Linked DNA regions of Homo sapiens: region 2 is linked to region 1. Evidence: fine-mapped expression QTL. A gene starts in region 1. The other region holds a variant in brackets. All regions are shown on one strand. Distances are from middle to middle. Region 1 holds the start of PDE4D (phosphodiesterase 4D). Region 2 has its middle 240 kb from the start of PART1.

Evidence for each region. PIP is the estimated chance that this variant, and not a neighbour inherited with it, causes the effect. A credible set is the group of variants that fine-mapping cannot tell apart.
Region 2: its variant is the best candidate, but not a certain one, in a credible set for the expression of PDE4D in whole blood (INTERVAL, PIP 0.57).

The regions. Positions count from the first base shown.
Region 1 is chr5:59,891,145-59,896,144 of GRCh38, forward strand. PDE4D (phosphodiesterase 4D) reads right to left here and starts at 2,582. Exons shown (of 15, transcript NM_001104631.2): 1 at 2,024-2,582. The coding sequence starts at 2,478.
Region 2 is chr5:60,245,210-60,250,745 of GRCh38, forward strand. It overlaps a transcript of PDE4D not described here. Among named protein-coding and RNA genes, the nearest start is that of PART1, 240 kb to the right of the region's middle. The variant G/C (reference allele first, on the strand shown) is at 2,556.

The DNA of each region.
Region 1 (5,000 bases):
AACCATTCAACTAAAAATTTCAAATAGAACAATTAATCAATGTAGAAAGCATAGCAAAAAATAAATTCAAATCAATGATGCAATACCTCTATTCCAATTAGCTTATTTTTCTTTCTTCCACTCTCTCAGGCATATTCTATTTTATTAAAAAATGAAGTCAATTAAGAAACTCTACAAAATCAATCAGCCCACAGATCAAGCTAGAACTCTTGTTCTTATTTAATGTTTATTAAGGGCTCATCATCACACGGTATTTTTCTATTAATAGGTCAAATATACAAAGTATCAGGCTTGCCTTCATTCTATCATTGGGGTCCTACATAGTGTCGTGCTCAACCAAAGGGGAGAGAGAAGGACATCCACCTCTTCAAACAAAGGGTCTTAGCAGTCTTGGCTGAAAAATGAAACTTTTATATTAATTTATGGAAGTCTGCAGTCTTTGATCTGAATTGAGGTTATTAATTACAATTCTTATTCTTCCCATCCAACAGGTACAAGAACATCTCCAACAAGGTACCTAAGGGTGTGAGCCAGGCAAAGGGCTAAGAGCATATATGCAAGCTGAAATGATGTGTACACATCAGGGTTATGATAGTTTGGCTGGATTCCCTTGTACATAGTGTATACAACAGAGAGACATGCTCACACACACACACACACACAAAACTCAAACACACATTTGAACACCATTATGATTTTCTGATCAGTCCAACCTACTGTCAATCAGAGTTGGACAAACAATCCCAGCCCTAGATTTTCCTGTTTCCACACCCAGACCTGATTTACAATTTATAACTGCCCATTGTTCAGACTTGTGGCTTGGAGGTGCAGTACATCGATGCCTGTCCACATCTAAGGTTAGATGACGACCCCTCTACTTTACTATTAGATGTGCCAAGGATCAGCAGCTCCTGAAATCTTTTTCCTGTGCCTGTGTGGGGGAGGGGATTCACGGCGTGGAAGGCCTGGGACAGGGAAGAAAGGAGCTGTCCCTGGGTTATCAGGAAAGGGACCAAACGTGGGCCCCACATCCACCTCCACGCCTGAGTTAAGAATCTGGAGCTGACTCCTCAGAATGGCTGTAATTGGTCCTTTACTCATTTCCTTGGAGAAGCAGCGGTCAACTTCTACTAAAACTCCCGGTTGATAGGCGGCTTCCCTGCCCTGTCTTCCGGAGCACTTACGTTAAGGGGAAATCACTATAATCAAATCTCTACGTCTTGCCTGCTGCTAAAACAAGGCGCTTTCTTCCTGGGATTTTGCAGGGACGACTGATACACACACGGTCTCCCTACACACAAGCTCGCACACACCGACACAGTGTAACTCCCACAGCGTCCTCGCTCCTTCTCCCTCCCTCACCCCCTTGTCTCTCTCAAGGATTGCTGAACATTTTGCTCCAAACTCTCCAAGTCACCCACGTGTTCTCCCCTTTTGCTATTCAATTTACTTCTCCACCTGACGAAGAGAAATGCGAGTTGTTCTTAGGCTTTTAGCTGCAATCCTGGGACCAGGCTTTCTCACTCCCCCCTCCTCCCCAGTCAGAGCAGCCCCACCGACCCTCTTCCCAATAGGGTGAGTGGACAGATGCTGGGTGCTTTCGCTGGTCAAATCCCGCAAAACCTTCACCTTCTCTTCTTCTCCACCCAGAGCAAACTGATTTTGCCTGTTTAGTCTCACTAGCCAGGGTGGTATGGAAGTGGGTGGGGAGAGGGCTGGTGCGTGGCACAGATAACTGGGAAGCGCGCGCACCACACACACACACACACACACACACACACACACACACACACACGGCCCCAGTTAACATTTATGCAGTACTTTTGGGGGGTCTCTTACACACACCTGAATAGCATACTCTCAATAAAGGATAGGCACACCCCTGTTTGTCCTCCCCCAATTTCCAGACTAGCATTTTACCCTGGGTCTAGAATTGGTGGTGATAAGCCGACTTAGATGGAGTATTTGAGAAAAGGGGAGGTGACCCTTTGCCTGAATGGGGGAGGGGGCGCTCTCCACTCACCGCCTGAGTCCCTGGAACGAGGAGGGCCAGGACATCCTGGATTTCTTCAGGCCGGGCCGGTGGCCGGTCTCCACCGCGTAGGAGGTGCGGTCCATGGCGCGACAGTACAGGTAGCGCTCGGTGTCCGAGTAGCCGCGATGCCGGACGCGGCCGGTGGCCCCGCTCGAGGCGTAGCGGCCGCGGGCAGCCCCGGGCGGCGGCGGGGGCGGCGGCAGGGGGGGCGGCGGCGGCGGCTGTAGCGGACACTGGGGCTGGGGCTGGGGCGAGGGTGGCGGCGGCGGGGGCAGGTGGTGATGGGGATGCAGGAGGCGGAACTGGGGCTGCCGGAGCGGGTACTGGTGGTGCTGCTCGTGCCTCCAGAGATGCTTGGGGGCTTTGAGCGTGGCCCCGCCGGCGCTGTCGCTGCCCTCTCCGCTGCCCGCCCGGGCCGGCGCGCTGCTGCCCTCTGCCTCCATCCTGGCTCGCGGCTCCGCGACCTGCTGCCCAGCCCGGGTTCACCGCGCTGGCCCGAGCGCCTTCCTGATGCTGCTGCTGCTGCTGCCGCCGCCGCCGCTTCTGCAGCCCAGCAGAGGCTGGTGCTTAGCTTCTCACTTGAAGGCGCCAGAGCCTCAGGGCTACCGAGAGGGGGCCCTGCCAGCGGGAGGGGTCACAGAACGCGGCAGGGCTCCTTCCACCGAGGCTATGGCAGAGACACGCTCCCGGGCTCCCCAAGTCACCAAGACTAGGGTGCGCGGTGCCCGGTTTCGCCAGAGGTTGGTCCTTCTTCCTCCCTTTCTTCTTCCCTTCCTTTGGGCGCCGGCGGCGAGAGCAGGGATTGTCAGCAACTCGGGCTGCAGAAGCAGCAGCAACGGCGGCGGCGGCAGTGGTAGCCGCCTCCAGGGCACCGGAACCCTGATCCCGGAGCTGCTGAAAAGTTGGACAGCTCCAGGCTGGCACGCCCGAGCTGTGACTTTCACCAAAACCACTCCAGCCAGTCAGGAGTCAGACCTGTCCTCTTGATCCTTCCCCTCGCCGTGCCCGCGCCTCCCTCCTCCACACTGCTCCCCACTGCCCCGGAGCCTTCCTCTTCACCTCCGCTTGCCTCAGTGCTCTTAGAGAAATGGAGTTTGGCGATTCCTGGCTGGTTCTCAGAGCTTGTTGACGATGAGCCCCATGCTGGTGCTTCCAAAGATAAGGAATGTGACCAGGCAAAGTTGCCTGGAATATTGTCTATGCGCGTCGCTGAAAAATTGGATCTGGGTGAAGATCCAATAGTAAGATTAATTCAGTCTCTTTCCCTGACATAGGATAAAACATTGTGTGGCTCTTTCCCACAGCAGGGAGAATGCCCAATGTTTCCTCTTGAAGATCTTCCTCCAACTTGGCCTCGGGAGTGGTCCTCGCTGGAAATCAAGGCGAGTCGTCCTTAGTTGCAGAGCCATGGCTGAGCCCGCTGGCCAGAGTTAAGGTTAAGGCACCTTTTCAATTACAAACCTCTGATTATCTTCGGTAGTCTCTATCTTCAGTGCCTGCCTGCAATTTGCCTTTCTGCCACTTCCAGCAGAACACAGCTCTATTACTAAAGTGTTTTAAAAACATGTTGTATCAATATTCACAGAAATTAGAGTCCTATGAGGCACTAGAATCCAAATTCAACTTTTGTCTTCCTTTAATTAGCATTTTCCTGCAGTGTCAAATGTTTTTTAAAGAAGCCAAGAGGATTTCAGGGCAATATATAGACACTTTTTTCCCTGTACCTTTTTTATTTGACCATATTACTTAAAGATGAAATGCAATTTGCTTACTGTTAAAATAATTCTAGAATTTTTCTTTGTGGAAGTTACCACGTACCATCCATTATTTGAACGATAATATATTTAGGACTCACAACAACTTGTTGGCTGTGTAATTATTCTATTCTTCCCACACACTCAGTCTTAACATATTTTCATATGTACATTTCAAGCATATCATGTAATGGATGCTAGAGTACCAGAATCAGGAACCATGTCTCAAACTCTCTAGACTGCTGAAAATTCAACACTCTCCACACAGTCTAGATGCCACTGGGAAAATAATGCCAATGAAAATAAGTGCTCACTTTGTTTATCAGCAAGAACAGTCCACGAAATGTGCAAGTGGCAGGAGAAGGCCTTCATCATCTCTTCATGCTATTTATTTATTTATGGTTGGAAATATACCTTTCCTCCATCAGTTTAATATGAGCCCTCTGCTCATATGTGGACTATACACAAAATCTGAGAAAGGTTGTGTCTTAAGAGAAACAAGGCAATCTCCTAAGCACCACTCTCCACTGTGTAGGATTAAACCATACTTTACAAAGGCACTCTTTTTGCCCCTTTTGCAGACACAAGTGTGACTGGTGGCAGTGGTCAAAGTATTTACCATGCCTAGGAGGGCACTAAGCCAGTATTTTCCCAAACACAAAAGGAGAGAAATGGAAGTGTTCTGCAGTATAGACTGCCTTTTTCTTTTAATTCATTGCATTATTAACATCCAAAACCATTTTAAAGAAGTACACAAATTTCTTCTTTCCCCTGAAATGCTTGCCACCTTTCGCCTCAATATAACTGTGGCAAAATACCTCTATCCGAAACTCTTATTCTAATTTCTCATACACTAACAGTACAAGTGACTTATAATTTTTTTCCAGATTAAATTGGAATAATTCAAATCCAACCTGATTTTCACCACCAATTTGCTCCTTCCTTTTTACTCATGAAAACTTTATCTTTTATATATTTCCCACTGATTTTTAAAAATTCTTTGTTTTGTTTTTACTATGTAATTGCAAGTCAGGAACATTTTAAAATGTAAGAAAATCATTTAATATGTTTCCAACTTGTAGAGTTTTTAATTTAACTTATAATTCCAAAATGTTATTGATAGTAATAGTTTCTTGTGTGATCTTTGAGGTTACAGCTTGAGTTCCAATCTACCACTTCCTACCCATGTTACTTTAGCTAAATTATTTACC
Region 2 (5,536 bases), 350 kb after region 1:
TGCATATCAAAACTACAATGAGATATCATCTCACTCTCATTAAAATGGCTTTTATCCAAAAGACAGGCAACAACAAATGCTGGCGAGGATGTGAAGAAAATGGAACCCTTGTATGCTGTTGGTGGGAATGTAAATTAGTACAACCACTGTGGAGAACAGTTTGGAGGTTCCTCAAAAAATTAAAAATAGCACTACCATATGACCCAGCAATCCCACTCCTAGGTATATACCCAAAAGAAAGGAAATCAGTATATCAAAGAGATATCTACACTCCCGTGTTTATTGTAGCACTAGTCACAATAGCCAGGAATTGGTAGCAATCCATTAGCAGATTAATGGATAAAGAAAACGGGTTACATATACAAAATGGAGTATTATTAAACCATTAAAAAGAATGAGATTCTGTTATTTACAACAGTGTGGATGGAACTAGAGGTCATTGTGTTAAGTTAAATAAGCCAGACACAGAAAGACAAACTTTGCATGTTTTCACTTATTTGTGGGAGCTAAAAATTAAAACAATTGAACTCATGGAGATAGATGGTAAAGGGATGGTTACCATAGGCTTGTAAGGGTAGTGGAGGAGGGAGGGAAGTGGGGATGGTTAATGAGTACAAAAAAAATAGAAAGAATGAATAAGACCTAAGGTTTGCTAGCCCAACAGGGTGACTATAGTCAAAAATAATTCAATTGTACAGTTTTAAATAACTAAAAGAGTATAATTGGATTGTTTGTAACACAAAAAATAAATGCTTGAGGTGACAGACACCCCATTTACACCCCATGTGATTATGATACATTGCATGCCTGTACCCCATGCCTGTACAAAATATCTCATGTACCCCATAAATATATACATCTACTATGTAGCCAAAAAAATTAAAAGTTAATTTTTTTTAATTTGTACCTTTTTTCATTTTCTTATATAGGCATTTAAAGCTATAACTTTCTAACTATAACTTTCATTGCTTCTCATACAATATTTAATGGATGAATTTAATTAATATTAACATTCAGTTTTAAATATTTTCTAATTTTCATTATTTTTTTGCTTGACTCATGAGTTGTTTAGACGTGTGTTGATTTAATTTCAAATCCATGTGGGATTCTTTTTGTTGTCTTTTAATTTAAATTATTAATTTAATTGCATTATAGTCAGATACTGCCTCTTCCCAAATCTTCCTGTGCTCTCCTTCTAGAAGGCCTATGAAACATATATTGAATCTTATGCTCTCCAACATGTCTCTTAACTTCTTTTTCATATCTTCTATCATTTTCTTTTCAGTGCCTTCTGGTTGATTTCTTCAAATTATATTACAGTCTACTAATTTTCTCTCCAGCTATATCTAATTTGTTTAACCTATGATAAATTATTAATTTCAATTACTTTAGTTTTCACCTTTATAAAGTGTGTTCTTTTTTTAACCTTATTTTTTCTTATATTTATAATTCATTTATGTCTCTATCATTTTCAATATTCATTTTTCATAGTCTATGTGATAGTTCCATCACTTTTAGGTCTTATTCTAATCCTGCTCTTTGTGTTTGCTAACTCTCACTTGTGGGGGATTTTGTTCTTATGTTTTATAGTTTGAGGTTGTGAGTTAATCTTTAGAAGATATTTATGTTTAGGAATCTTGTGAAACTTGGTTGAATGGTATCTTTCTCCTAAGAAGTTTGTAACAGATTCTGCCAGGTGCTTTAGAAGTATCAGTAATCTGGGCTCTCTGTAGTTAATTTTTCAAGTTGTGATTTTTCCATACTACACAAGTAGTACAAATTCAATTCCCAAACCTAAATGAGGTACAAATCCATAGAGATGTGTTTTTGAAGGAGACATTCTTTTTCTAAGACACAGCTTCCTTGTCTCTTCTGTTCTGATGATTTTTTTTCAGTCCTTTCCATTCCAAGGTCACAACTTTGTACTGAAGATCTCTGTTCCAACCCACAGAACCTCAATTTTCCATTTCATATCTCAAGCCCTTTGTTAGTGAGACTAATAATACTGTCCCAAAGGCAGCCACAGTATCAATTCAAGTGTTTATCCCTGGAGTTTTCAATTCAACCTTTACTTCTGACCCATAGTAATGATTTTATTTCCTTTCAAGATTAGACATGCAGTATTTCTAAGCATCCGTAGCAGGGATGATAGTAAGATTATTAGCCATGTTTCTAGAACTGTTAGTAAAAAGTAACTTATTTTCTCTAGTAAAAATCAACTTACAGCACAATTGGCAAGCTGAATCCTTGTAATTTACCAATTATGAAACTTTTTCAGTTCACAATTATATTATCCAAAGCTTGTTTGATCCCACTTGGTCCCAGTTTCAGAAAACCACATGGAAAAAAATATATAATAATTATAGGTGCATACATAGCCCCTAGCTACAACTAGAAACATTACACTGAACTTTACATGGATCCAAATAAATCCTTTAATTTTCTGGATTCCCTCTGAAGCCCATCCCATCACCTTTTTCTAGAGTCCTCTAGTGCTTCCTCTCTCTCCTCTCCCTCTCTCTCACACACACACACAAGACAGAGACAGAGAAAGG[G/C]AGAGAGATCATTTTTCATATAAGTGTTCACTGCTTACTGTCAACAAGTTATATGGCTTTTCTTCTTCCTTTCCATTAATTCAATACAACTTGTCTAAGTTCCTGCTGTGCTCTAGACATTGGAGATGTTGCCAAAAACAAAACAAAACCTTTGACCCACAGGGTTTCAATCATAGTATAGAAGAAATACAAATAATAAACAAATTAATAAATATATTTTAGTTTGAACCAAATGAAATGGCCAATATTCAGCTGTTCTTGATCCACCCAAAAGCAATTTCATATGGTTCAACTTGATAGAATATGACAGGTGGTGCTACGTGCTGTGAAGAAGATAGGGTAAGTGGAGAGAAAGTCATGGGTGCATGTGAGTGTGCTATTTTAGATAGCATGGCCACAGAACCTCTCTTTTTAAGTGCTATTTGAACAGATGATAATGGAGTGAGAAAGTGTGTAATACGGATATCTGGGGGAAGAATATTCTAATCAGAAATGAAGGTGGAAAGGCCCTGAGGAGGGATGGCATATAAAAGAGCAGCAAGGAAACAGAGGGACCTGAAGGGAGCGAGTGACAGTAAGAGTGGTGCAAGATAAGGACAGAGAAGGTCAGGGCCAGGCCCAAGAATGCCATGTCAGCCATGGCAAGACATTTGATCTCACTCCTCATGAGTTGGGAAGCTGTTGGCAGGTTTGGGCAGAGGAGAGGCAAAATCAGACTTGTATTTTCAAGGATGTGGAGGCCAGCCTCCAAGGAGCAAGATGAACAGAAGGGGCTTAGGTAGGAGATGACTGCTTTCATGCAAGAGTGAGACCATGGTAACAGACTCAGGTGGTAGCAAAGGAAATAGGACAGACTGGACCTTCACAATTCTTTCATGACCTCTCTTATCTTTCTTTTTAAAAAGTATATTTGTCTTATCAATTTCTTATTCCCAAACAAGTATATTTCCAAGCTTCCACTTCTTGCCCTTGGTTGGTATTGGTGTCAAAATCATTTTGCCTGCCTGCTTCGATAGCCTGCTTTCCAACAGGAAACTTCTAAATCTCTTTACATTCAGTGCTCCAAAAATATACATTTGCACTTCCCATAGCCTGACACATCTGCATCATCCCTTTTGTTCCTAATCACTCTCAGAACAACAGCAGCATACCTGATTGAGGAGCAGCTGGCATTCACTGCGCAAAGAGCACCATCAAAAATTGAGCATGTGGCTCCAAGAGCCACCACTGTTTCCTTCTGTTTCTTGCCAAAGACTGTAACTTGTGGGTAGGCTGGGCCTGAGTGATAGCAGGAAATGGCCCACTGCCATGCAAAGTGGCTCCTCTGAAAAAACTTTTAACCATATCCCTGCAGCTGGACCCCTTCCTCTGAAGTTTCTAGATATTGCAACTCCCCAAAGAGGAAGTTGTCTAAGGGAGGTACAATGCTTTAGGGAGAAACTGACCACAGCTTAATGGCTTGTGAATGCAACCACTGCAACTTCTGGGCCCATTTCCCTCTCATGCCCACACAGGGCTGGGTGTGTTCTATTAAACATTTAGGTAAAAGGAATAAGTAACTAGCTCAGCAATGTCAGCATCATGTCACCATGGCATGACAGAAACTCAGTTTTCTGACTCTTAGTGAAATGGATCATTCAAGAGTAAAGCATTAAAATGTTTATAAAATACAGTTGGTCCAAGAGGACAAGTTGTGTCAAAATCATTTTCCAAGACACCTCATGTTTTAAAAAATCCTAACATGTAGCCTGCATGCAATATGCAAACAGGCTGCTAAGGAGAGGACATGACATTAAAATGTCAGTAGAATTACTGCTCAGCTGTAAGAACTCACACACTTTAGATTTAACAGCAGTGAGTTTACATTGGGTCACAAGAAATAGGATTTAAATGAATATTCCAAACCTATTTTCTGAAAATGCATTTTGCAAAGATACAGGTAGGCATACCTACTTCTGAAAAAAAATTCATTTGCAATAGAAAATGGGATGAGAAAACAGAAATAAAATGTATTCATCACCCTTGTCACTCCTCTATTTTAAATAAAGCAGAAACCACACATAACATTCCAGGATATTAAGCTAGGTATGAAATGATGTTCAGACTACTAAGGCTAAAGATTACAGCCATAATTCAATCTGATATTAAATGCATTTATGATGCCATATAATGTGGGAGACATTTAAAATGACTACCAAAATTTCTACTAATATGACCTTTTCTTGAATTTTATTGTTAAAAATCCTTTTCTGCCAAAATGTCAAGGTTTCTCACAGTGCTTCTACATACACTGTAACCCCAGTAATAGAAAATGTATATTTTCTGTAGACACTGGGGCTATCATCAGACAAATTTATTCTGCTGAAACTGGAGTCAACATTAAAAGAGTTTTTTGCAGCATAGGTATTTTTTCACTTATAAGTTATTACTCATTTTTCCTAATACTGTGCAGATAATATAACAACAATATTGAAGGTTTTTTTTAATATTTGAAAATTCATTGCACATAAAAGCATGCTATGCTATTGTTCCTGTTTTAGGTCCCCAGTCCCTGATCAAAGATGATATACATCTCTAGAGGCAGCTAGGAGGTGTCTCTAAGCTGGTAATAGTCGGGGTTGGATTTGTCTCAAAGCAGCAAAAACTTGTAAAGATGGTTCTGCATCCCTAAGCCTTCTCTATCTGATAACTTTGATTATTTTCAAGTATAATCATGTGCCATATAATGACATTTAGGTCAACAATGGACCACATACTACAGTGGTCCCATTAGATTATAACGAAGCTGAAAAATTCCTATAGCCTAGTTATTAATATACCATAGGCATAGTAATGTCATAATGGAAAGCAGTACTTATATGTTTGTAGCAATGTTGGCATAAAAAACCTACTGTGCTGTCATTCATATAAATTAGAGCACACACAATTATGTGTACTACATAATACATGATAACAATAACAAATAATGGTTACTAATTTAT